4 linked regions of the Homo sapiens genome follow. The protein of the gene in region 4 interacts with the protein of the main gene of each other region in a biochemical or structural test. Each region holds a gene or a part of one and is shown on either strand. Other genes may lie near its edges. The genes, in order: MARK3, MARK2, ROR1 and ARHGEF2.

Region 1 (3,956 bases), on a different chromosome or scaffold from region 4:
AGCCTCCCAAAAGTGCTGGGTTCACAGGTGTGAGCCACTGTGTCCGGCCTCCAGACTTTCATACTCTGACCAACAACAAACCCAGAACCCAGAATAGCACACCAATCAGTGTGACAACTTCCCTGTGAGAATAAAGCAACACAATGAGTTATGAGCTCATTACCCCTACACAACCATGTAGGTGTTGGACAAAAGCTGCAGGTCTGATTCATGTACTGAATCACAAGAAAGGAGAAAGGAAATTTACATACTTCACAGAGAACCAACCCAGAACTGTCAAGACCTGGTGTTTCTCCATAGGGCTGTGCCACAACTCCCAGGGTTAAGCTGCAGCTGCTCTGGATTCCCTTCCTTCTTGGGTCACCATGAGGGCCATCTTCTCTCTTTATTGCCTTGGGAGAAAAAATATGCTGGTAATCACAAAATGCTGGGACCCCTGCGAAGGTCCACGTGGCCCCAAGCCTTCATACACATTACTTCTGCTCAACTTGAGGATGTGTTAAATACAGCATTAGGAGACAATGCAAGATTTTACTGAGAAAAAGTGAATTTTTAATTATCTTGTGAATCTACTTAGAAAAACACACACAAGCAATGTTCACAACTATAAATTTAAACCTTTTGCACTAAAAAAACACAAAACAACAAACACAAAACCACAGGCATGAACTGTAAACCTGTATTAACTATGAACTGGTCTTAAGGTTAATTCTTAGCAGTCATTCAGTATTTTCCTCCTTGGCAACTGTAATGTTTTAGCACCGGATGATCTCCCGCAGAGGTACTAGTAATGACTGGCTGCCAGTGTAGGGAGATGCTTCCATATACACCACTTCACACACATACCGTCCACTCTCACACCCACCCAGACGGGAGGCACATGGAGATGGGGCCACACACCGACTCTCAGGGTAACGGAAGTAGGGCAGGGGGCGCATAGGTTGCACATCTTTAATGTAGTGCATTCGTAGAAAAAAGGCCAGCTTTCGCTCCCAGGCGTGCTCTCGTCCTCAGACTTTAATTTCATGATTTAGAAGATGCAGACGTTATTGCCTAAATATTATTCTATACATTTCCATCAGTGTTCAGGAAAACACTTTAATTGCTACTTAATTTACATCATAATCACTGGGTTACAGCTTTAGCTCATTGGCAATTTTGGAAGCAATATTTTTGAAGGCTATGGATGTCCCCGATATCCGCTTAAACCGGACCCCGTTCAGAGACAGTCTTGGCAGCTTGCACACTTCCATTTCCCACTGCACGAGGTTCTCCGCGTGCCCATCTCCGTGGACGCAGAAGAGCAAGAAGCGCTCCCTCTGCTCATAGTCGCAGTTATTGGCGTCCAACACTTTGCGGATTTCCCGCATCATGTCCCCGGGATCCATTGAACTAGTGGTTTTCATGCTCCAGGTGAAGCGTAGGGATCGAGGCTTTGCTTCTTTGTTTTCATCTTTTTGCTCAGCAGATACATTGCGACTGAAATGCATAGAGGCAGGTTTATTTTTAATCGTACAGGAAAATCAACCTCTTACACTTCAGCTAGTTCCTCATTCACGTCTTTGATACAACACAACTAACGACTGACCTCCACATTTTCCTGCACAGACTCACATTTGTAACTAAGTCTATTTTCGTCTATTTTCTTCCCTCACCCCCTAAAAGTCATAAGCCACACACAAAAAGATCTACCTAGCTGGAAAATCTTCACCAGCCACCTGTGCTTACTAAAATGAACGAAGTAATTCGTTAAGCAGAATCCTTGGAAATCAGGCAAAAAGGACAGCATGCCCCACTCCTCAGGGCTCTGCAGGCCCAGCTCAGGGAAGGAGTTGCCAGCCAGCTCCTGCCCACCCCACCCATCCACCCTGGGCTGTCCCTCTCCTGCAGTACTGTTCTTTCAGATGTGAATCACTGTAACTGGCACTCAGGGTAACTGGAGACTCAACATCCGCAGTCTAAAATTGCTTTGCTGTACAGCCCTGAGGCTGAACATGATGCTCTACCCACCTCATTGTTTTTCCTCCTCTCTGGTTTGTTAATTAAACGTCCAATTATACAGTTAAAGAAAATCTCAAATGACACAATCTTACTACTGGAATAGATGGAAAAATGCAACGGGACACTTCTCTGTCTGTGGGGGACTGACACCACCCATGTGGATGCCCTGTGGATTCAGAATGTAAGCCTTGGTCTGATGTCCAAGAGGCAGCCTAAGTAGAGCCCAGGCCGGGGTCTCTAGGGAACACCGCGGTTTACCAGCCACTCCTTGGCATTTAGTCATTATTGCCACAAGCCGTTATTTATATTCTCATGTGTGTATCTGGTGGCCTCAATTAAGACAGTGAGTGCCTAGCATTCTTGGGAGTAAAATAGTCTATGTACCTTAAGTACACTCCATCCTATGGCCAACTAACCAGAGGTGAGGGGCTACAGCTTTTGCATATGCACATAGCTCTCCGTGTCACCAACCTGCCAGTATTCAATTTGGTTCACATCCACCAATACTGATGAGAGAAGCTTCCTATGTATAAAATGCCACGTTAGATACTAAATGGGTTACAAAGATAAGCAAAAGCTCTCAAACTCATCTGGAGCCAGGAAGACTGTAAGGTGAGACAACAGTGGCAGCACAGGAAAGGCTGGCCATCTCCTAGAGGGCAGCAGAAGAGGTGGAGCCCGCCGAGCAGGAGAACGTGACAGGCAGGATGAGACAAGGAGGAAACAGCACGGGTGGGGGTGGGCCTGCATCTGAGGAGAGCTATGAAGAGCCATGGGATTTCAACAAAATGCAATGAAGATAGGGAAGAGTGTTTGTTTTGAGTAGAGGGGATCACAGCCAAAGGGGAGGTAGGAAAGTACAGGATGTGTCTGTGGCATAATAAAGTACACAGACTGAGTGGAACTGGAGGCACAGTGTCATCACCCCCACAACAGCTGGTGGCACTTAATGAGCACTTGTGGTGGTCAGGCCCCAACTTACTTGATGCCCACGTAGGTCCTATTATGTCACCTTCCTATTATGGGTGGGGAAACAAACCAGGATCTAGAGCCTGCTCCTGGCTGGGATGGGTAGGCCTGGAGAGGGAATGCTGCCTGGCACTCACCCTAGTGCTCTGCCTTGATGGGGCAGCAGAGCTGGGGCTGCTGGGGCAGCCTGGACCACGCCACTCAGGGCCTCGCAGGGACGTGGCCAGGTGAAATAGTGGAGGTCACTGAAGGTTTTAATTCAGAAAGGTCATATGACCAGAAGCGGGCTTTTAGAAAGACCAAAAGGACAAACGGTGAATGAGGACCTGAAATAGCCTGCTGGTGACTGGCATAAAAAAAGGGCACAAGTGGAAGAGACCTAGAACAAGGGACATAGAGTCCTAAGGCTACCTGGTGATTGCCTCCCCTCAAATCCATGCAATGATAACTATACAAAATGGAAAAGCAAGGCTGGGTGCGGGGGCTCATGTCTGTCATCCCAGCACTTTGGGAGGTTGAGGTGGGAGGTTCACTTGAGCCTAGGAGTTTGAGACCAGCCCGGCCAACATGGCGAGACCCCCATCTCTACAGAAAATACAAAAATTAGCCAGCATGGTGGCAGTGCCTGTGGTTCCAGATACTCAGGAGGCTGAGGTGGGAGGATCGCATAAGCCTGGGAACTCGAGTAAGCCCTGATCACGCCACTACACTCCAGACTGGGTGACAGAGCGACACCGTGTCTCAGAAAAAAAAAAAAGAAAAGCAAAACACTCAACTATATAATCACCATTCTTAGAAGAAAACATATCTAGTTTGAAATATGGACATTCTATTAAGTACTTTGCTTTTATTCCTTGTGAAGAGAACCATGTGAGGGGTCAGTGATGAACTGAGGGCTTATTTCTCTGAGCACTGCTACCCAACCCAGACCTCCAAAGGCTGTTAACGCCCAGGCAGGAAGGCTGAAGGCCTCGCCGTGCTTTGAA
Region 2 (7,039 bases), on a different chromosome or scaffold from region 4:
TAAGGTGGGAGAATCACTTGAGCCTAGGAGCTATTTGAGGCCGCAGTGGGCTATGATCACACCACTGCATACTAGCCTGGGTGACAGGGTGAGACCCTGTCTCTTAAAAACACCAACAAGGTCAGGCGCGGTGGCTCACGCCTGCAATCTCAGCACTTTGGGAAGCCGAGGCGGGCGGATCACGAGGTCAGGAGATCGAGACCATCCTGGCCAACATGGTGAAATCCCATCTCTACTAAAAATACAAAAATTAGCCAGGTGTTACAGCCGGGCACGGTGGCTCACGCCTGTAATCCCAGCACTTTGGGAGGCCGAGGTGGGTGGATCATGAGGTCAGGAGATTGAGACCATCCTGGCTAACATGGTGAAACCTCATCTCTACTTTAAAAAAAAAAAAAGTACAAAAAATTAGCTGGGCATGGTGGTGGGCGCCTGAAGTCCCAGCTACTCGGGAGGCTGAGGCAGGAGAATGGTGTGAACCCGGGAGGCAGAGCTTGCAGTGAGCTGAGATCGCGCCACTGCACTCCAGCCTGGGCGACAGAGCGAGACCCTGTCTCAAAAAAAAAAAAAAAAAAATTAGCCGGGTGTGCTGGCACATGCCTGTAGTACCAGCTACTTGGGAGGCTAAGGCAGAATTGCTTGAACCTGGGAAGCGGAGGTTGCAGTGAGCTGAGATTGTGCCACTGTACTCCAGCCTGGGCAACAGAGCAAGACTCCGTCTCAAAAAAACAAAAAGACACAACAAAAAGAAGGTGGAGAAAAAAGGCAGCCGCACATGGGATATCAGAAACCAAAGCAAAACTCATACTGAAATGGTAATCAGAAGCAATGAGTAGCTCACTGTAGTATCAACAGGGGCAACCAGCCCCCAAGGACAAGGTCTAGGCTGGAGCTCTGTCAGCAGGTAGTTACACTCACTAATTACTAAACGTTCATATTTTGGCATTTCCTGCTTAGCTGGGAGACTGGGAAATAATCCTACCTGGCTGGCCTTGCTCCCTGAGAAAGACTTCCTAGTGCTATTGCAGGAAGTGTCAGCACACATGGTGACCGGAAGCTCCCACCTTTCCTACAGGTTGTTTCCTATGGCTGAAGTCCCTGTAAGCTGCCAAAGAGCAAAAACTATTTTTTCTCTCTTTTCTTTCCCAGCAGGCCTGGACAGACAGTCCCATTGCGTGGACGAAAAAAGGCCTGGGATGTCACTGAATTTAGCAGCCAGATCATAGCAGTAAGGAGTCCTGATCCCCTCCCAGACCCATAAATGAGGAGCCAAAGGCAGACCCAGTCCCTTCCTCCTGGCTAGGCTGAGGGTCTTTCACCAAGTTGTGAATTGGGAAGGGAGTCCAAAAAAGGAGTTAATGTCTTAGAGCTTTCAGTGAAAGGTGTATAAAGCAAAGCTGCCTTCAGGTTCAGCATAGGGTGGAGAGAAAGCCTCCTCCCTGGAGTGAAGGACCAGCTCAGAGACCCATTCAGTGTTTGGGGAGAAGGGGGTTGTTGACAGATAGTTGTCTTCCAAACTTTCGCCTCAACGAACACAGCCCCAAAGGAGGCAGACCTTTGTATTGCCAACTTCCCAAAGAGCACACAAGAAAATAGGCCAAGGCTGCCCAAAACCAGCTTGACTGGTTCTACAGAGAAGCCCCTGGTCTGCTCCGCCTTCCTCATGTTAAAAAGAAAAAGGCCAAAAAGGTGGCTGGGAGCCAGTCACTGAACACAGCCCTCCTCTCTTTCTGCCAGGCACCAGTTGTCCCTCAGGATCACCTAGCCACCAGTATCAGTGTCCATCTCCCCTCCTCTCCTACCAAATCTTCTGTTCATTTAGTTTTATAAGCCTAAAATTAATGATTTGGTGTAAAAAGGAAATGAATTTACTTTTGCCCTTTTTGCCATTTTCTAATGAGAAATGTAAGGAATAACTGCAAGTAGGGGGAAATAAGTGCCAACCCAAAGACAGACATCTGCGGAAAGAACCACCACAGGGACTGACAAACCTTATTTATCTTGAGATGGGGTCTCACTCTGTTGCCCAGGCTGGAATGCAGTGGCATGATCACAGCTCACTGCAGCCTCAACTTCCCAGGCTCAAGTGATCCTCACATCTCAGCCTTCTGAGTAGGTGGGATACACGCATGTGCTACCACACCCAGGTAACTTTTTAAAAATTTTTTTGGGCTGGGCGCGGTGGCTCCCGCCTGTAATCCCAGCACTTTGGGAGGCCGAGGTGGGTGGATCACGAGGTCAGAAGATCGAGACCATCCTGGCTAACAAGGTGAAACCCCGTCTCTACTGAAAATACAAAAAAATTAGCCGGGTGTGGTGGCGGGCACCTGTAGTCCCAGCTACTCGGGAGGCTGAGGCAGGAGAATGGCGTGAATCCGGGAGGCGGACCTTGCAGTGAGCCGAGATCGTGCCACTGCACTCCAGCCTGGGCGACAGGGCAAGACAACGTCTCAAAAAAAAAAAAAAAATTTTTTTTGGCCAGGCGGGGTGACTCATGCCTATAATCCTAGCACTTTGGGAGGCTGAGGCAGATCACGAGGTCATGAGTTCAAGGCCAGCCTGACCAACATGGTGAAACCCCATCTCTACTAAAAATACAAAAATTAGCGGGGTACAGTGGCGTACACCTGTAATCTCAGCTATTCAAGAGGCTGAGACAGGAGAATCACTTGAATCCGGGAGGCGGAGGTTGCAGTGAGCTGAGATCGCACCACTGCACTCCAGCCTGGGCAACAGAGCAAGACTCCGTCTCAAAAAAAAAATTTTTTTTTTGTAGAAATGAGGTCTCACTATGTTGCTCAGGCTGGTCTTGAACTCCTGGGCTCAAGTGATCCTCCTGCCGTGGCCTCCCGAAGTGCTGGGATTACAGATATGAGCCACCACACCTAGCTTGAGAAACTTGAAACATTCCAGACAAAAACAGATATGAAGATAAAGGGATCTAGCCTATTTATACTTATCAGAGGAGGAGATGTCTAGAGGGCAAGAGGAGGAACTGGGATGCCTCCTCCTCTGAGACACAACTGGAAATCAAGAGGCCAGATTCTCTCTGGGTGCTGTTTAGAATCAGCTGTACTATCTCAGTCTAAAAGATAAGCAATGATGCCGGGCGCGGTGGCTCACTCCTGTAATCCCAGTACTTTGAGAGGCCACGGCAGGCGGATCACTTGAGTCCAGGAGTTCAAGACCAGCCTGGCCAACATGGTGAAACCCTATCTCTACTAAAAATACAAAAAGTGGCCAGGCATGGAGGTGCGCACCTGTAATCCTGGTTATTTGGAAGACTGAGGCATGAGAATCGCTTGAACCCAGTAGGTGGAGGTTGCAGTGAGCTGAGATCCTGCCACTGCACTCCAGCCTGGGTGACCAGAGCAAGACTGTCTCAAAAAAAAAGACGAGCAATGACCTTCAATGGCCTATAACAAAAAGGAAGGGGGCGGGTGGCAGTAACATTCTGCTCAGGAGTTAGCACTTTCAGGGTTAACCTGGGGATAGCCTGGCTCTCCAGCAGTGGGAAGAGGGTGACTTCCTCCCCCACAGGTTTGTAAAGGCTTACTCTTCCCTTTGCAGAGACAGAAGGGAGAAAATGCATAGACAACACTTCAGTGACTCACTCATGTTTGATGAAAGCTGGGAGGAGGCCTGGAGAATCCAAGCTACAAGCACAAAACGTACAAATACTGGAATCTCCCATCAAGAGAAGGAAATTTAGCCACCTATCTGGTTTGTCATTTTGCTGAACTTCCACTGAAGGAGGAAGGGCCAGCTTTAAACTCCACCCACCCTTTCCACATCCTTCTCAATTTTTGCTTTGATGGGAAAGTGGGGAAACTGGCGGCCCCACCATGGCTAAAAGAGAATCAAATCCTTTCTATACTTCCTCTCAAAGCAGAGGCCTAGTAGCTCCAGTCCACAGCTTAACCAAGCAGAGGGAATAGGGGCTTGTCCTGGTTACTGTAGGAAAGCCTCATCAGGCAGTCTCAGGGAAGGAAGATGACCACCCTCCTCACCCTTTCCATCTGCTGAGGTTACTTCATTCCAATCCATTAATGGGCTTCAAAGTGCTGCTGGGGGGAGTCCATTTAGCAGAGAAGCTATCACGGGGCCAAAGGTGGCGCCCACCCCCTACCCCATTTGTCGATAATGGGCCACAAAGTCTGAGGCTTGGCTGCACTCTAGACATAAAATATTCATTCAAGTCGACATAATACATAAGTAGGAACCTCATGGAAGCTCCTGGGAGAAGAGAAATGCCAGCCAGGTGGCTAAGTGCTCAATGGGAAAGAGTTCATGAAGGCCTGGGTTAGTCCTGATCAAATGCCCACTGAGAATTGGGTTGTTCTGTCCAAAGGGGAAACAATCTAGTCTGAGAAGTTCTGACTCCCAAAAGCTCGAACCCTGCAAACCTCTTAGGCAAGCAAAGTCTCAATCTTTTCCTACCTCATAGGCACCAACTCTGCTTAGGACATTTATGCTGAGAAAAATCTCCAGCCCAAACTTTGGTTGGTCTGAAAGATTAAGTTATCCTTGTGCAAACTTTATTTTAATCTGCAGCAGGCCGAGTTTCAACAACTGTCTTATATCCATCTGTTTAGCTACTTTCCGAAGTCCATAAATTGGAGAAAAGTAATTTTTTTTTTCTGAGATAGTGTCTTGCTCTGTCACCCAGGCTGAAGTGCAGTGGCACAAACACAGCTCAATGCAGTCTCGACCTCCCCAGCTCAAGCCATCCTCCTGCCTCAGCCTTCTGTGTAGCTGCAACCACAGGCATGTGCCACCATGCCCAGCTAAATTTAAAAAAATTTTTTTGTAGAGATGGAGTCTCACTTTATTGATCAGGCTGGTCTTGAACTCCTGGCCTCAAGCAATCCTCCTGCCTTGGCTTCCCAAAGTGCTAGGACTACAGGCATGAGCCATGGTGCCTGACCAGAGAGAAATTATTCTAATTTACTAGGTACAGTTACTTTTCAGATTCAAAGGTTACGAACTCCAAGGACTCCCAAAGCCCTTGCTCTAACAACACTTCCTTCCTGATCTCTAGGGCCAAGCCGAAAGTGACACTATTTGGTCTGACATTCACCCACATTCCTGACCAGAAGGCAGCACCACCAAGGACCCCCTGGCCAGAATCAAAGGACAGAGTGAGAATTAGCACCAGGGCACACTGCTGCACAGCTCAGAGTGTGGACTGAGATGCTAGCTAGCCGATCCAATCTACCTAAGTTACACCAAAAGCAAAAAAAAAATATTTATCCAGCAGATCACCTGAGGTCAGGAGATCGAGACCAGCTTGGCCAATATGGCAAAACCCCGTCTCTACTAAAAATACAAAAATTAGCCAGCATGGTGGTGGGCGCCTGTAGTCCCAGCTACTCCCAGGAGGCTGAGGCAGGAGAATCGCTTGACCCGGGAGGCGGAGGTTGCAGTGAGCCGAGATCGCATCGCTACACTCCAGCCTGGGCGACAGAGCAAGACTCTGTGTCAAAAAAAAAAAGAGTTTTATATATATATATATTTTTATCCAGAATCAACAATGGGGGTCCAGTGAGAGTGTTTGGAGTAGTTCAGCTGTTCCTTATAGGATCTTGTAACTTTGTTTTCTTCACCAGTACTTCTAAACTCCCCTTCCTAGAACTGAGAGAATAAACAATGCCGCTCACTGCCTAGAAGCCTGACAGCAGCCCCCTCCCTTCCCACTGCAGCAGAAGTGGGGCAAGTTTTCTCTCAATCCCTCTCTCATAGTTTCTGAGGCCCAGAGGTGGGGCAGGTCCCAGATGGAGTAGCCTCTCCCCCAGGTGTTATGGAAAACTCTAGCAGGTGAACTCTGGAAGCTGGACCTTTCTCCAGGCTTGCCTGTGACTGCTGCTGCTGGCTGGAAGACAAACAGTCATCTTGCTGATTGCTTTCACAACTGCCAAGCTTCAGGCCAGCAGAGTCATTTGGAAAAGAAGTGAACAAAAAGCTCAGCTCACAAACTAAGAATCCCCCAAGCTACGAGCCCCAGATTAGAACCCTCCTTCTGCAAAAGCAGGAAGTCTATGGCTGTGAAAAAGCACATCTGGAATCAGGTGTCACAAAAACCATCTTAAAGACAGGGCTTAACTTTTTTTTTTTTTTAATCTCCTACTTTCACTGTTATAAGCGAAGTGGACAGCACACAGGCAATCTCCCTGTAACGCAAGGTTTATTTTTATGCTTCAACATTTTCAGTGTCTGTGTGTTTCAGAGTGATTAAAGGGCTCCTGGAAACAGGTTCTCATCAGCCACATTTTTAAAGAAGAGGGAGAGGAAGAGCAAGAAAAGAGACTGGAGACAACCAGTGGTGTTTGTTTACCTATTTTCTGGTAAAACCAGTTTTAAATTTAAATAAGGTGACAGAGGACCTTTAGGGGAGGAAATCAGCCCAACTAAATCCCCTTTTTAAAAAAAATAACATTAAGACTATAGTAATGACCAAGCTTCCATGACTACTTTATCTAAAATCACAACAGGACCAAGAAGAGGTTTCTTTCACTTGGTGGCATGATCTATTCTCGGAGGCCAGTGTTTGATATACCTGGCCTTGTGACCTGAGGAGCTGCTGCTTGTCTTTTTTCCCGTTTTAAAGAATACAGGAATCAGGCCCGGCGCAGTGGCTCACACCTGTAATCCCAGCACTTTGGGAGGCCGGATCACGAGGACAGGAGACTGAGACCATCCTGGACAACATGGTGAAACGCTGTCTCTACTAAAATCCAAAAAATTAGCCGGGCGTGGCGGTGTGTGCCTGTAGTCCCAGCTACTCAGGAGGCTGAGGCAGGGGAATCGCTTGAACCCAGGAGGCGGAGATTGCAGTGAGCCAAGATTGTGCCACTGCACTCCAGCCTGGCGACAGAACGAGACTCTATCTCAAAAAAAAAAAAAAAAAAGAATACAGGAATCTGTCTGGAATAGGTGCATCCAAGGTTTTCCAAAGTCCCTGCTTTTACTGGAATGAGACTTAATATTAAATCGATACAGTGACTGGCTACCCTGAGAACAACAGTAGAAGGTATGAAGG
Region 3 (7,578 bases), about 92 Mb from region 4:
AGGCTGGTCTCAAACTCCTAGGCTCAAGAGATCCTCTCACCTTAGTCTCCCTAGTAGCTGGGATTATAGGCACAAGTCACCATGCCCAGCTCCCCAAACACTGTTTTGTGACTTTTGTATTCAAAGTATAAAGTACATTATTTTATACTAAAAATGACTTTATATGATTGGTTCTATTATCTGTCTCTCTCTCCTTTTAGCAGGTGAGAATGTTGTATCATAAAGAAATTAAACAACTTGTTCAGGTCATCTAGCCAGCTCCGTTTGATGTTAGAGTCCATTCTCTCTCTCTTTTTTTTTTTGAGATGGAGTCTCGCTCTGTCGCCCAGGCTGGAGTGCAGTGGTGCAATCTCGGCCTACTGCAAGCTCTTCCTCCTGGGTTTACACCATTCTCCTGCCTCAGCCTCCTAAGTAGCTGGGATTACAGGCACACACCACCATGCCTGGCTAATTTTTCTATTTTTTTGTTTTTAGTAGAGATGGGGTTTCACTATGTTGGTCAGGCAGGTCTCGAACTCCTGACCTCGTGATCCGCCTGCTTCGGCCTCCCAAAGTGCTGGGATTACAGGCGTGAGCCACTACGCCCAGCCCGAGTCCATTCTCTTAATCACTAACAATAGTAGCTAATAAATATTGGCTGCTTACTGTGTAACTGGTACTATGTTAAATTCTTTACAGGTATTAACTAATTTAATCTTCAGAACAAAGCTACAGGTAGGTATTATTATTATGCCTCTTTACAGATGAAGAAACTAAAATACAGGGACCCAGTACTCACAACTATTAAGAGCAGAGCAGGATTTGAATCCATGCAGTCTGGCTCCTGAACTCTTCCTGGTAAGCATCACACTACACCGTTTCTCCAAGAATAATTAATGGTTGTATTTGTTGGGTAAATCAAGCGGATGGCCCAAATGAGTCTCTCCCACCAGCAAGTTTTTGAAATGAAAGATAGTTTTCTATTTAATGCTCCCCTTGGCACCTGACCCCAATGATTTACTATTGCCCTGCTCTTGTTCCATTTTCCCACTATGCCTTACAGTGATAATAAACAGAACCGTGTGTGCCAGTGCAAGAGGCCAGGGGAGATGAGTGCCTCTGTAAGTAGCAGGAGCCTCAGCCAGTACCTCAGGTTGTGCCAGGCCCCTGGGAAGTGAGTAGCTTCACCTGGGTTCTCTTATCCATTTGTGTCAACTTCTGGCTTCCTAAAAGAGAGGGCATGGCCAAAAGAGGCTTGTGAGAGGAACATTTAGATTGCTTGGAGCTTTTATCATAGCCCACCAGGGGTTTGAGACAGTGGTGTATAGTGTAGAGAGATATTTGACTTGGGATGGAGTCCTGCCTTTTTGCTTTAATTTTTTGACTCTGGGCAAGTTTTAAAAACTCACTTCACTTAGCCCATTTGTTAAAAATGGGCTAAGACCAACCTTATTTTGATGATATAAGTAGGTTCATGCAGTAAATAATAATAACGATAATATCTGCCATTTATTAGGTGTCTCTCTGTGCCAGATACTCATAAAAGCACTTTCTAAGAGTTAACTCAATTAACACTAACCACAGCATGAAATAGGTGCTATTATTATCATCATCATTTTACAGGTGAGAAACAAAAGTACAGGCAACTAAGATATTTGTCCATAGTCACTCAGCAGAAACCAGAGAAGCTGAAGCTTGAGACCAAGCAGCCCAGCTCCCCAGCCTGTGCTCTTAAACATTGGCATTTACTGAACTTGCATAAATAAATAAATATACATATACACATATATATATTTTGCATATTATATATATTTTACCTCTTTTACTTTTTTAAACAGGAAAAGCCTTTTCTAACACCCCCCCACCCCAGCATTTTTTTTTTTTTTTTGAGATGGAGTCTTGCTCTGTTGCCCAGGCTAGAGTGCAGTGACGCTATATCCACTCACTGCAACCTCTGCCTCTCAGGCTCAAGTAATTCTCATGCCTCAGCCTCCCGAGTAGCAGGGATTACAGGTGTGTCACCACGTCTGGCTAATATTTTGTATTTTTTTGTAGAGATGGAGTTTCACCATGTTGGCCAGGACGGTCTCGAACTCCTGATCTCAAGCAATTCACCCACCTTGGCCTCCCAAAGTGTTGGGATTACAGGCATGAGCAACCGTGCCAGGCCATTGCTAACCTTTTCTTTGGAAACTTGTGTGCTATAGCTAAACTGAAGGAATCTGGGATGATTTGATGATGGTCCTTACCCAGGTCTGGACTGGTAGGTCTAGGTCCTAGTTTTGGCTCTGGCCAGCTTTGGGCAAGGCGGTTTCACTCTCCTAAGTCCCACATGTCTCCTGTATAAAATGTTGAGGGGGGTGTACTAGTTAATTTCCAAAGCCCTTTCCAGGTCTCACATTCCTTATGTCTATGATTCTGTGATTAAGTTCCTGGAAGTTTAAGTACTGATAAAAGTGCCATTAAGTTCTGTATACTCAGCACTAGCAGCTGTCTGTTACCTAAGATACCTGGGCCTAGGAGTTATAGGGTGGGGGCTGGGGGCAGGGTGGGTGGATGAGAAAGGCTCCTTGTCTGACAACTGTGTGTATTGACTGTAGACAACAGAGGACTGCCCAGCACTGTGCAGTGTAACTGAGTATCCTCTGATTTCTGGGCTGTGATATACTAAGACTGACCATCAAAGACTGTTTCCCAACAAGAGAACCTTGTGCAGTAAGTTCCTCAGGCAAGAAGCGAGATAATTGGGACAGGATTGAATAGATCTCAGGCAGAGAAACTTGGGGGACAGATCAATGTAGGTAATGAACTGGTTGACCCAAGGCCTCTCTGTCTATCATTTTTTGACCTCAGGTCAGAGCGATAGAAAGGGGGAAAACTACCGACACAGCTCCTGCCATGAAGTCCTGGAGAAGAATAAGTGACTGTTTGTCCCGCATGGGTTAGTCATTCACCTGCCTGAAGGCAAAGGGCTGGGAGTCTGGAGTCCATGACCTGCTGGGACATACTTTGGGCTGCATTTTTTCCCCCTTCTAATGTCTCAGCTCTCAGGGATCTGCTTTTCCTGGTGCCAAGGAGTATGGATGAAATTTTGTCCCTCCTCCATGCACCCCTATAAAACAAATATGATGAGAAATTAATATTTTCCAAATGGTGACCTAACCTTTGTTCATTAATTGAGCTCCTATTGCATTCCAGGTACTGTTAGAGGCCAGCAAGATACCTAGATGATTGAGACAGAGTCCTCGCCCTCCATGAAGTGACTGTTCATTTTAAAACCCTAAAGCTGGGTTCTTAGAGGCTACTGCAACAGCAACAACTCCCGAGTGAGTGCTTATCATGTGCCAGGCTCTGGTTACAGGCTTTAACTCTCTCAGTGGAAACAGCCTGAGTGCTGGCTTGGCTACCCCATGTCTGTGAGACTGTGGGCAAGTCATTTACTTTCCCTTTGAGTTTCAATTTCTAAAACTGTAATATGGGGATAATATATGTAAAACAGCTAAGAAGTATATACTTTTAATGACTCTTTTTAGTGTCAATGGAGGATTTGTGAGCAAATGCATATAAAACACAAGGCAAACAGGAGGTATTTAGTAAGTGGCCACGTGATTATTGAGAGACTATGGGCTTCTTCCTGTTCCTCCAGAGCAAGACTGACAGGTGTCCTATTACCCTTGCATCTTCAGAGCCTAGAGCACAGCCCTGAAAACAGCAGGCGCTCACCACTTTTTATGATCAAAGGCAGTCTCTACAGGGAAAGTCAAATCATTATGGGTATTTATGAATTACAAAATCCATAAAGTTAAACCAGGAGAAATGGACAAAAACACACTCATTGTAGAGGTCTTTAATGATCCCTTGGCTCATGGCAGAGCAGCTAGACAAAAAACAAACAAACAAACAAACATGCAAAGATTCAGAAGGCCTGAAAAAATAATGAATACAAAGAAGATAAATCGATACAGTATTCTATCTTCACATTCGGAAGACAAAAACACCTTTCAAAAAACCATGGGACATTGGCAAAAATAACCACAGATAATCCTCAATAAATCTTGCCAGGAGGCAGTACAGATGACATTGAATTCAGTGAGACTACAAATTAAAGACAAAAAGGCGAAGTATAAATTACTTGTGTAAGAACTCTCTCAACTCTTGGGTCCAAGAAGAAAGCAAAAGGGAAATTGTATGATAGCAATAAATGTGCCATTACCCAGAGTCACACAGCTAACAGTGACACAGCTGAGGCTGCTAGAACCTGGGTCTACTGTCGTCCAGCCACGAACTGGCTTGAGATCCCGGATAAGTCTCTCTGAGCCTCGGTTTCCCCTTCTGTCAAGTAGCCTCGAAGGTCCCCGGCGCTCGGTTCGGTGGCGAGTTTGAGGAGTGTGGGGGAGGGGAGGGGAGGGAGCGTGCCCGAGACGCGGGAGCCGCGACCGCTTTCTGCGAAGTCGGGGAGGGTGCGGGCGTTGAGAGGCTGCAGCAGAGGGCGCTGGGTCGCCAGCCTGGGCCGCGTCTCCCATTGGTCGGGGCTGGGGCGCTGGGCTGGAGAGTTGGTGGAAAGTGACAAGTTGAGCGAGAGAGGGAGCGTGGAGAGCTGGAGCAGCCGCCACCGCCGCCGCCGAGGGAGCCCCGGGACGGCAGCCCCTGGGCGCAGGGTGCGCTGTTCTCGGAGTCCGACCCAGGGCGACTCACGCCCACTGGTGCGACCCGGACAGCCTGGGACTGACCCGCCGGCCCAGGCGAGGCTGCAGCCAGAGGGCTGGGAAGGGATCGCGCTCGCGGCATCCAGAGGCGGCCAGGCGGAGGCGAGGGAGCAGGTTAGAGGGACAAAGAGCTTTGCAGACGTCCCCGGCGTCCTGCGAGCGCCAGCGGCCGGGACGAGGCGGCCGGGAGCCCGGGAAGAGCCCGTGGATGTTCTGCGCGCGGCCTGGGAGCCGCCGCCGCCGCCGCCTCAGCGAGAGGAGGAATGCACCGGCCGCGCCGCCGCGGGACGCGCCCGCCGCTCCTGGCGCTGCTGGCCGCGCTGCTGCTGGCCGCACGCGGGGCTGCTGCCCAAGGTAAGAGGCGCCCGCCGGCCCCCGCCCGCCCAGACCCCCTGACCCGTGGCCACCCTTCCGCCGTCCAGCCGGGCGCGGGACACGCAGGAAGCGCCGCGCTGGCTCCGGGGCGCGTCCGGCCACCCGCCACGGGGCTCGCCGGCGCCGCCAGGCCAGGGTTTGCCCCGGAGCCCCGCCAGGCCAGGGTTTGCCCCGGAGCCCCGCGGCGGGCCGGGGCGCGCCCAGGGACTCGTTCCTCGGTGCGCAGCAGCGATTGTCAGCGCTGACAGGAAGCGTGGAGGGGTTTGAGGGTCCTGGGGGTGATCGGGGCACTTCTGTGCAGGGCGTCCCCCCTTGTCTCCCTGGACCTCTAGCGCGCCCCAGCCGGTGTTCAGGCAAGTCTATCCTGCCCCCAAGTTGCGAGCCGGCCCGGAAGGCGCGGTCCAGGAGGGAGTTTGGATTTTCAGTGGTGCTCGCCAGAGCCCAGGCGGCTCGCGGATCGACGCAAACAAAAGCCCTGTCCTCCTGGGGCTCCGGCGGCCTCGCATCGCCACCGCCCCCGGCCCTCCGGCCCTCCCGAGAGTCATCATAGAGGCCAAAACTTGTGCGCCGCTGCAGCCGCTGCCACTTTGTGCAAAATGTGCTGTCAGAGGCGGCCTGCGGCTCCAAAGTGCTTTGGGTGTGCACGCGCGCGCGCGCGCGTGTGTGTGTGCGTGTTACAAACAAGAGGGGGAAAAGCCATCTAATGCATATTTGATTTTGGTAATCTCTAAAGACAATCGCAACAGTTAGAGAAAGACTTCACCGCAAGCCGGAGCGTCTTAGTTCGCTGCGGGAAGCTGGGGTCCTTGCTGCGTCTGAGCCGGTACACAATGAGAGGGAAGAGCCCGGCTGAGCCTGTGGAGACAACCGATTCATTCTTTGGAGGTTGGAGGGGGAAAGTTGATTAAAGTCTCCGGGGTCTCGGGCCTCACTTTTAACATGCATCCCTTGAGGGGGTGAGGAGCCTTTGGATTCTGCCCTCCCCCACTCCCAGCCCTAAACCTGAGCGGATAAATAGATCTCTGCTCTTTTATCATGCATCTTTCATTTTTAAGTTAGCACTGTGTTTAGGAAAAGAAAAAGTTCTGCGCTACTTAGCAGTTGAGAGGAAAAAGATGTATTCACTACATAGACTACGAATGCAGAATTAGTTTTTACTAAAAGTTAGCTGACTTTCTTGGTAGAAAACACACTCTGGAAGGAAGTTGTGTGAAATTTTGATTTCTTAGAGATGGTTTTTGGAAGCTAGAGTAGCATTTTCTGAGGATGATTTCTGAAACGGATCCTATAATGTGGTCGTGCTAATCTGAAAGCTCCTGGGGGTAAATAGAGCTCCTAATTGTAATTAAGATGTGCATCAGCAGGGAGTGCACCTTCCTGATGAAAAATCCTAATGAAATGTAAACAGCTTGGTCACATAGATGTTTTGCTTGGTGATGCCAAACATCTGGCCTTGCGCCACAACACCTGGGTGAAAAGTAAAAATGGGCCATGCTGCCTAAGTAATGTAAACATCCTTCTCAAGTTGGGTTGCCCAGCAAATTGAGGTGGAGATAAGCAGGGTGATTTTAACTAAGGTGGGACTCCTGGCTTGGGGCTTTGGTTAATTCAGTTATTTCCCCTGTGGACTCCTTTACTTTGTACTTCACCTTTCAACAATAGTTGCTTTTAGATCATAGCCCCTTGTGGGGGTGGGGGTCACTTACCTTTAAATACATGTCCCTGCATTGATTTTGCTCACTGTAAACACCCTTCTTATCAGCAGCCACCCCAATTCTGTCTCCTTTAACTGTTTACAGCCTTTTAGAGTTGTTTAAAAAAGGTATTGCCTATTCCATTGTAGCAGGAGGAGCCACAGACAAAACTCCTCAGACACCCAGTGAGCAATTCCTGTCCCTTTTAAGGGCTCACAACTCTAAGGGGGTCCACGTGAGAGGGTCATGATGGGTACATGACTGGGGGCTGCATGCACTGGTAATCAGAACGAAACAGAACAGGATAGGGATTTTTACACTGTCTTTCCATACAATGTCTGGAATCTATAGATAACATAACCAGTTATGTCAGGGGTCGATCTTTAAGTACCAGGCTTAGGTCAGGCAGGCCCAGGCCTGGTTTCGGGTCTGGTTCCTTGGTTTCAGGTCTGGTTCCTAGGTGCCGGGCTACCTGCCTTTAATTTCGCTTCTCTTTCCTTTTCTGAGTATAAAACAATATAAAACAATATGAGAGGGTCTGTCTCTCTTCTCTCACCATACTCTTTAGTAATGAGCTCAAATCTGTTATTATTGTCTTATTTGTTGTTTTATAAATCCCTTTCCATTTTGTGAATGTTTGATCTTTTCTCTGGGGTCAAGACTTCTGGTAGAACTCACGTTTACTTTCTCCTCTTGGACTCAAGATTCCTAAGGTAGCCCAGCCAGTGGCTCAGGAAATCAGCTTAAGCGGAGATATGTTTCATGTATTTATTTAAAAAGATACAAAACATTTCTCCCATCATTTTTCTATTTTGTTAGCCAGG
Region 4 (7,711 bases):
TTTTTCTTCATTTCCAGCATTACCTCCATCTCCTCATGTCTTCTTTTTCTCTATGCAGCTGCAGCCAGCTGGAAGGACATTCAGGTACCCGGGTAGGCTCCTCCCTGCGACAGACCTTCAGCTTCCTCTCGGGCATGACCGGAAAGGCCAAGGTAGGAGTCAGCTGGGGAAGCAGGAGGCTTGGGACCCACTGCCCTCTCCAGTTCCCTTTCTCCCATCCCACCATCGCCACCTCCCACCACTCCCCCTATTAGAAACTCAGAGCAATGGTTCCATTTTTTATTTTTTTATTTTTTTAAGAGAGGGGGTTTCTGTCTCCCAGGCTGGAGTACAATGGCACAATCATAGCTCACTGCAGCCTCTAACTCTTGGGCCCAGGAAATCCTCTTGCCTTTACCTCCCAAAGTGCAGGGATTACAGGTGTGAGCCACTGTGCCCAGCCAAATGCTTCAAATTTTAAGGAAACACATGCTATCTCTTCCAGCCTGTGTCTCTGTGTCCCAGTAAATCACCTTTTCTCTGCTTTCCCCTACGCATCCAGCTTAGCAGTCAGCTGTGGACAGATGGAAGGGGAAAAGGGCCAGGAACCTCAGAAGCTGAGGAATGGCCTAGCCCTCCCTCTCTTTAGGCCTCACATAGCTGACAGGTGGGCAGCGGAAACCTCAACCATTGGACATAATAATGATAATAATTACAGCACTACTTTTTACTTCTTCATAGAGTATCAGGGTTTGCAAAGTGCTTTTACACTCATAATTTTATGGGTGGGTACAGCAGCTGAAGGAGTTGAAATTAGACCACAGGCAGAGTAGAAGCTGGGAAAGTATATGATTATGGAAGCACATGCATACCCGTACATGTGCGGCCATGTGCTGTTCTGATCCCAGGAAGTGAAGGCACATTGTTCTCATCCTTATTACCAACCGTTGGGCTCTGGTGAAACCGGGAGCTCTGCCTGCTCCTTGAATTTGTTTCCACTTTCTTCATTTACTGTCAGAGTGAGCCGCCCCCCTTTTCCTCCCCTGGCCTCCCCAAGTATGCATGTGCTTTCCAACTCGGGGCGGCTTCTGAGTATTGAAAGAAACCCCAGGGAAATCATCATCATATTCACCTTGAAGAGCCATGAGATTCTCACCAGTAAGGTTGCCTGGGCTCCTCCCAGCCCCACCCGCAGTGCCAGGGTTCTCCCCTCTTCCAGCCTTTTTTTAGCCAAGATTCCCTTTTCTCTGGGTGGGCTGGGAAGGTCAAGATGAAAGCAGGTCATGTTGTTAGCACCTCTCACCACAGGCCATGGGTCGGGAGTTGAGGCTAATGGAGGCATGAGACTGGGTGAGTCTCAGAAGAGGAGCAGCTGGAGAATCTGAAAGCTGATGGGAGGGGAGGGCAGGTGGGACAGAGAGGTTTCTCTCCCATGGGGGAATGGAGATCTCGAAGGAACAAAGCAAAAGCAGAAACCTTGGGGTCTGAGTCTCACCTTCCTACAGGCTGTCTCACTGCAGGGTAGGGGAGTCTGCTAGTGGAATCACTCCCTTTTCTTGCCATGGGAATGGTAGGGGAAGTCAGTACTGCCCAGGGGCCATCCAGATCCCGGTTGGTCTGTTTGTCCACCCTTGACCTAACAGTCTGATGGAGGGTTGAGCAACCTGGTGAAGGGGAATGAGGGCAGAGACTCTGGAGCCCAGATGGGAAAGAGGGAAGCGCCAGAGTGAGTCAGGACATTGCCTCGCTCAGCCTTTCCTCCCCACGTCTGTCATCCTGTCTTCCTCTGTTTCCCTCTCCACCATCTCCTGCTACATCTTCCTTCCACCTTCATGAATGTGTGGGCCTGCTTCACTTAATCTCTTTCTCCATAAGCAGTAAACATCAGGGGGTGGGGCTGGAGAGAAGCTCAGTCAAGCAGTGAGAGAAGGAAGTAGCTTAGTCCCTCCTACTTGAGTAGCATTGCACACTTGATGAAACACTTTCAACTCATTTAATTCTTATAACAATTCTGGCAAAGATAAGTATTTCAATCTCAATTCTACAGACAAATACTTAAAGGTTAGTTACTTTGCCCAAGATCTCACAGCTCATAAGAGGTGGCGCCGTATTAGAAACTCAGGGCTTTGGCTGTGTATTGCCACTGTTTCTCTCAATAGCCGTAACACAACAGTTCATTCCCTCTCATCCTTCCCTTCTTCCAGCTTCTGGCTGGATGGCCACTTAAGGCAATTTGGCCTTAATCACCTCCTCCCAGAATATACAAGGTCCAGACCAATAGAAGAAAGAAGAAAAACAAACCACCTTGGGACAGTGTAGAGCTTGGGCTTGGGTATCCTCGGGAGACCCATCTCTTCTCCAACTGGCCGAGACTTTGGCAACCAGGTTCTTCCCTGGGACCTCCTCCCTACCCCTGAAATGGGAGGGACACATTTCGTCAAGTTAAATGGGCTAAAGAAGGTGATGGCTATTTTTAGATCCTGGTAGAAATGTTTGTTTCTGTGTATCTAAAAAATTATTTCTGAAAATCTGGAAGATATCACTGGATAGGAGTAGAGGGGGCGCTGGAATGAAGAAGGGTCTTGGAAAAGGGGGGCAGGTGACACCAAGGAGAAGGGAAAAGTGTTCATTGTTCAAGAGGATATAGAAAACGGAAACTGAGTCAAGCTGCAGGCCAAGCTCACTAAACACAGGTGTTTTTAAAGGCAGAACACTTTTCTTTTCCCTGTCCCTAGTCCCTTTCCTTGTTATTCATCTCCTAAGGGGAAGAAGAGGGCATAGGGTGAGGGGTAGGGTAACAGCAGGTGGGATGGAAAGTAGACTGAAGGTTGGGGTGGGAGACAGAAAAGAGTTGGAGGGTCGGGTCCTCTTCTTTCATAGAGACCTTCTTAGTTGAGTTGAGGGACCATGAGGTCGCTTGAAAAACCCCAGGGTTCAAATTCTATGTTTCCTGGGTACCCAGGCTGGAGTGTGGCCCTTTAAGATTCTATCCATAGCTTGCAGCACCCTCCTGCCCCAGGCCTGGGAGAGAAGCTGAGGTCCCACCCCAGATCTTGTCTCTGGGCCTCCAGTGGGTGGAACCTTGAGGCCAAGATTCTAGCCTCTGGCTGTCTGTTTTTAAATTTAGTACATTCCTGAGTCTTGGCTGCCCACCTCAGGGGAGGTGAGTCTGGAGTTCTGGGGCCAGGAGCCTCAGGCCTCTTGGTTTGGGGGAGTTCCTACACCCTCCCCGTAGGTATACTTGGCAGGTGCAAGCCAGGAAGAACAAGCTGTGGCCCTGGGGAAGTCCTTCCTGCTTTCTAATGTCCATCCAGCCTGAACTGGGCACGGTTTATTTCCTCTTCCTTTTTCCTGGTCTTTGCTATTTAAGGATTCTAAACAGGGGAATGGGTGAAGAAGGAGGTGAAGGAGTTGCTAGGAAGGAGGGGAAGCCGGAGGGGCAGTGTGGGGGTAGTGCTGGGGGTGAGGAGCCCAACCAGCTCAGCCAGTGGTGAGGTAGTGGAGCCCAAAAATAGTGGCAGAGGCTAAAATTGGCACCTACAAGAGTGCTGAGTTGGGCTTGAAACCTGCAGCCTGGCCCCACTGCTGAGCCAGGGCAGAGAACTGCTGGATCTGGGTTGGGTCTCCCCTCCCTCCCTTCTTCTCCCACGCCCTTTGGGGCCAGAATCAGGCAGGACCCTGCTAACCGAAGGCTCTGTCCCAGGCCTCTCTGTGCTTCTGGTTTCTCCAGAGAAATGGGAGACCCTGAGAGGCAGAAATGAACTTCACTGTAAGTGATCATAGTTAGACTGGAGGAGGAATTTTCCCAATAGCAGGAAACTCACCCAAAGGCTGGCTCAGGCTGGGGAAAAGGGTCCAGAGAGATGAATGCCCCACCTTACCCTGCTTCTTGGGGAGAGGCTGGTTGGGCCCTAACTTTCTTTGACTAGGGCAGGCTGGTTTCTGGTCTTTCAGTTCCGGCTTAACTTGCAACAGAGAGAACTGCAGTTAGACACATGGAAGGCCTTCGGTAAAAGTGGAGAATCCCAACCTAGTCCCCCAAAGTAGCTGGCAGAGGCGGAGCTAGGAGGAGGGCAGAGTGGGGTCAGGAAGGCCCCAGAAGGGTGGGGCATGTGGGAGAATTCTCTCCTCTCTGTTCTTCGACCTCTGGGAGTGAATCCTACCCTTCCCGTGTACTGAAGATCCAGCGTTTAGTTCTCCTTTGATTTCCTCTCCCTCTGGCCACCCCTGCCCCCAATCGTAAAAGGGGTCAGTCTGCTCAGGCCTGCTTTGATGGGACCCCGAAGGCCAGGAAGGAACTGGTCCTGGGTTTTCTAAGAGCTGGGGGCGGATGGAATTCTCCTGCCTGCGGGTCTTTAAAGACTGAGGTAACGCAGTAGGGGAGGGAAAAAGGGAGGGCGAGGGGAGAAGGGAAGAAGGGGAGGGCAGAGGGGAAAGGGCCAACCTGGGTCCGGCGAGGGCTGCGGGGCTGGGTTTTAGGAAAAGAAGAGCTAAGAGGCGGGTCTCTGGGGCTAGAGGGCGCCCCCAGGCGCTGGAGGGGAAATAGGCAGAGGGGCCTCTCAAACCTGTCCTAGGACCCTCGTACCTCTCCGAGCTGCCCCCACACAAACCCTGGCGTCCCGTCCTGCGCGCGGGCACCCCGCCCTCCCTCCGCTCCGCCTACCCCCTTCCTGAGCTTGGGCGGGGGAGGAGACTCGGGTTTGAGGAACTGGTGCTGGGTGCCGGGCGAGGGGAGTCAGACTTCCTGTCCCCGAGACCAACGCGTGCGGGCCGAACCCCTCCCCCCGCCTTCCCCCAACAATACAGGACGCCGGGGTCCGCGCCGCGTCCTCCCTGGTCCCCCCGTCCGATTATGTCTCGGATCGAATCCCTCACGCGGGCGCGGATCGACCGGAGCAGAGAGCTGGCGAGCAAGGTGGGCTCGGAAACCCCTCTCCTTTCGCCGCGGTCCTCGGGTGCTCCCCGAACCCCGGCACCCGCGGTGCATCTCCTGTCTCCCCGCCTGCTTTCTGGGCGCCAAAATCGGGCGGAGCGGTGGATCGGCGAGCGGCGGGACGGGGTGGGTGGGGACTGCGAGCGAGTGGGTAGGGGTGGGGGGAGCGGCAGACGCGACGGTGCTGGGATCCCGGGAGGGAGCGGAGCGGACCTGGGCTTGGTCGCCTCCAAGCCGGCGGGACCGAGTGCTTTAGGCCGCTTGAAAGAAAGTTGCTCCGGTAAGGGACGGAGCGGGAAGAGGGAGGTGTGTGTCTCGCGGGTGGGGGCGGTGGAAGCTCCGGCACCTCCTCTCACCCCGGGCCCCACCGGCTTGGGCTTGGCGTGGCGACCCCCCATCACTCCCCAATCGCTGGCTTGGTCGTTCCCCCTTTGTCCCCGCCATCCGGCGGAGGGGACGGGAGGGGGTGGTTTCCCGGCTTCCTCCCACCACCACCACCACCCCTCCAAGACAAAAGTCAGCTCCTCCTCTCCTCGCAAATGGACTTTCCAGCTGTGATTCAGTTCTCCCCTCTGGGTGGGCGGGTGGCTGGGGTCGGGACGGCCGAGGGACGGCTTACTTCCCCCAAACCATCACCTCTAGGTGAAGGGAGCAGAGGTCTTTGTGTAGCTGGGCTCCTTTCCTCCATCCTGAGCCCTTCTGCCTGGAACATAGGGCCTCCATCCCTATCTGCCCCGCCAGCCTCCTAGCTCTTCCTTCTCCCAACCTGAAACCCTTAGGCTGACACACCTGGCACTATGCATTGTGTTCCCTGCCCTTCCTCCTCCTCCCCCAGCGCTCTCATTCTCTTATCTGCTCGTCTTGGGGTCCCTTCACCTAGCATTTCATGAGTCTGGGTGTATAATTATCCACACGCCTCCCCCATCATGACCTCTTGGCCACTCCTCTCCAAGTACCCTTTATCCCTGCCTTTGTACCCAGCCCCATTCCCAAGTGCCCTGACCTTTCCACACCCAGACCCCAGGAAATGATGAAGCTGACTTGCAGGTGAATAAGTCAGAGCTGAAAGGAAGGTGGTGCCTGCAGACAGCACCTCCCAGCTCCTTTGGGGCCCCCGCACTGTACCCATTATCAGAAAGGACAGGTCCCAGCCCAGAGTTGGTTTAATCTCTGGCTTCTCTCCAACCTGAGTGCCCTACTACCCTGGTGCCAGCCTATGCTGATCACCAACTTCAGCCAAGGGAGCAGTACCCCTTAGGAGTCCTTAAGGGTGATGGAAAGCCCTCCCCTCCACCTCCCTGGTAGTTCCTAGCCAGGCTACCTGTCTTGATGCTAAACTGGGAGAGACAGAGGTTCCATCCTGGGTTGGGGGTGGAGGGCCAGGGAAAGCAGCTTTAAAAGGACTTTCCTTAGGGGGTTGGGATTAGATTTTGCTATCTGGAAAGCAACTGGGGATTCGAGTAGGGCCTAAGACAAACAGAGGGCCGGGGTGAGGTGGCTGAAGTGTGGTGGAACAGTGGGGTGGCAGACAGGCTCTTCACAGCCTGCGCCAGCCCAGGCCCCAGCTCCAAAAGTCTGTTTATTTTTTCAACCGTTTGAGCTGAGACCCTGGAGTAGAGCCAAGGGGGGCGGGGGAGGTTTTTTGAAACCGCAGAAATTTGGTTCCACCCTAAAAAGGAAAGCCATGGGGGAGCTGGTTGGGGGAAGACCTGGCTAGGGGGTATAGAGAGCGGTTCTGTGGGGGCAGGTAGCTACTGGGATCCCTTTTCCATTATTGTGGGGAGCTGGGACGTCAGACATCTGGGTGTTCATGCTCTGTTTTTGTTTTTGTTTTTGGTGGTGGGGGGACTGGCTCTTCTTTCTACTATGGGGGCTGGCTGTGTGGGGCAGGTAATTTGGGAATCTGGCTGGCAGCAGGGAGTCGGGGGCTGAGTGGGTGGATCTGAGAGGGCAAAGAGGCCACCGGAGAAGGGTGGTTGTCAGTTTGGGCCGGTCGGAAGGGGAGGGCCACCTCCGGAAAACTGTGGTTACAGAAGGGGGAGTTGGTTCTTAGCCAACAAACCCTGGATCCCCTCTCCCCCTCCCCCCAGCACACCAGCTGTCTCCTTTCTTTTTATACTGTGGTGGGAAGTAGAGGGGCACCCGCTGGAAAAGACATTATTTGAAGAAGATGGTGTCCCCTGCTACCTCCTTGGGGGGATGGGTCACAGCTAAGCCCTGACACCTCAGCCCCTCCCCATTCCTTGCCTCATTCCCTGGGAGCTCCTCCTAGGAGGAGGAATGTAAGTTTAACCTGCCCCTTTCTCTGTCCCATCCTCACAGGATCTCTCTGTGTAGCCCCCTCCATGCTTCCTTTTTCTTTTCACTCCATTTCTGTTCTCCCAGGCTGTCTTCAGTCCTCCACCTCCTCTGTTCTCTCTGCTCTACTTCCTACCTCCACAAGCCCCAAACCTCACAGGTCCCCTTTCTCTCTTTAGTCCCCTGTTCTTCCCTTTCTCCTTTCCCAAACCCCAACCATCATATCCCTTAGAACAAAGGGTCCTTTTCTGCCAAGCAGGGACCAGAGGTCCAGGGATGGCTGTGGAGGCTGGGGGTCCCCTTGGAATCTCTGTGGTGGGCAGGTGGAGTGGGGAGTGTGCAGAGCGACTATTTCTTTGTTCTGAGGAATGGAGAGGTGGCTGGCTTTGTGTGCAGGACTAGGAGTGCAGTGGAGAGGAGAGCTGGGGGAGCCCAGGAGGGAGCTGAGAGGGCTGACGGTGTTGGAGGAGAGTGGAAGAATGGGGGGTCCTCCTGGTGGCT

What was found.
Region 1: of the proteins of ARHGEF2 (region 4) and MARK3, one has a biochemical effect on the other in vitro, tested with the Homo sapiens proteins (one study listed by BioGRID).
Region 2: the proteins of ARHGEF2 (region 4) and MARK2 form a complex in vitro, tested with the Homo sapiens proteins (one study listed by BioGRID).
Region 3: the proteins of ARHGEF2 (region 4) and ROR1 form a complex in vitro, tested with the Homo sapiens proteins (one study listed by BioGRID).

Annotation. Positions count from the first base shown.
Region 1 is NC_000014.9:103,500,405-103,504,360, reverse strand, and holds the end of MARK3 (MAP/microtubule affinity-regulating kinase 3), read right to left. Parts: intron 1,480-3,956; coding exon 1,134-1,479; 3' UTR 530-1,133; downstream 1-529. UniProt on the Homo sapiens protein: Serine/threonine-protein kinase. Involved in the specific phosphorylation of microtubule-associated proteins for MAP2 and MAP4. Phosphorylates the microtubule-associated protein MAPT/TAU. Phosphorylates CDC25C on 'Ser-216'.
Region 2 is NC_000011.10:63,842,087-63,849,125, reverse strand, and holds part of MARK2 (serine/threonine-protein kinase MARK2), read right to left. Parts: intron 1-7,039. UniProt on the Homo sapiens protein: Serine/threonine-protein kinase. Involved in cell polarity and microtubule dynamics regulation. Phosphorylates CRTC2/TORC2, DCX, HDAC7, KIF13B, MAP2, MAP4 and RAB11FIP2. Phosphorylates the microtubule-associated protein MAPT/TAU.
Region 3 is NC_000001.11:63,769,470-63,777,047, forward strand, and holds the start of ROR1 (inactive tyrosine-protein kinase transmembrane receptor ROR1 isoform 1 precursor), read left to right. Parts: upstream 1-4,547; 5' UTR 4,548-4,948; coding exon 4,949-5,039; intron 5,040-7,578. UniProt on the Homo sapiens protein: Has very low kinase activity in vitro and is unlikely to function as a tyrosine kinase in vivo. Receptor for ligand WNT5A which activate downstream NFkB signaling pathway and may result in the inhibition of WNT3A-mediated signaling.
Region 4 is NC_000001.11:155,975,548-155,983,258, reverse strand, and holds the start of ARHGEF2 (rho guanine nucleotide exchange factor 2), read left to right. Parts: upstream 1-4,711; 5' UTR 4,712-4,831; coding exon 4,832-4,894; intron 4,895-5,083; exon of another isoform or gene 5,084-5,192; intron 5,193-7,711. UniProt on the Homo sapiens protein: Activates Rho-GTPases by promoting the exchange of GDP for GTP.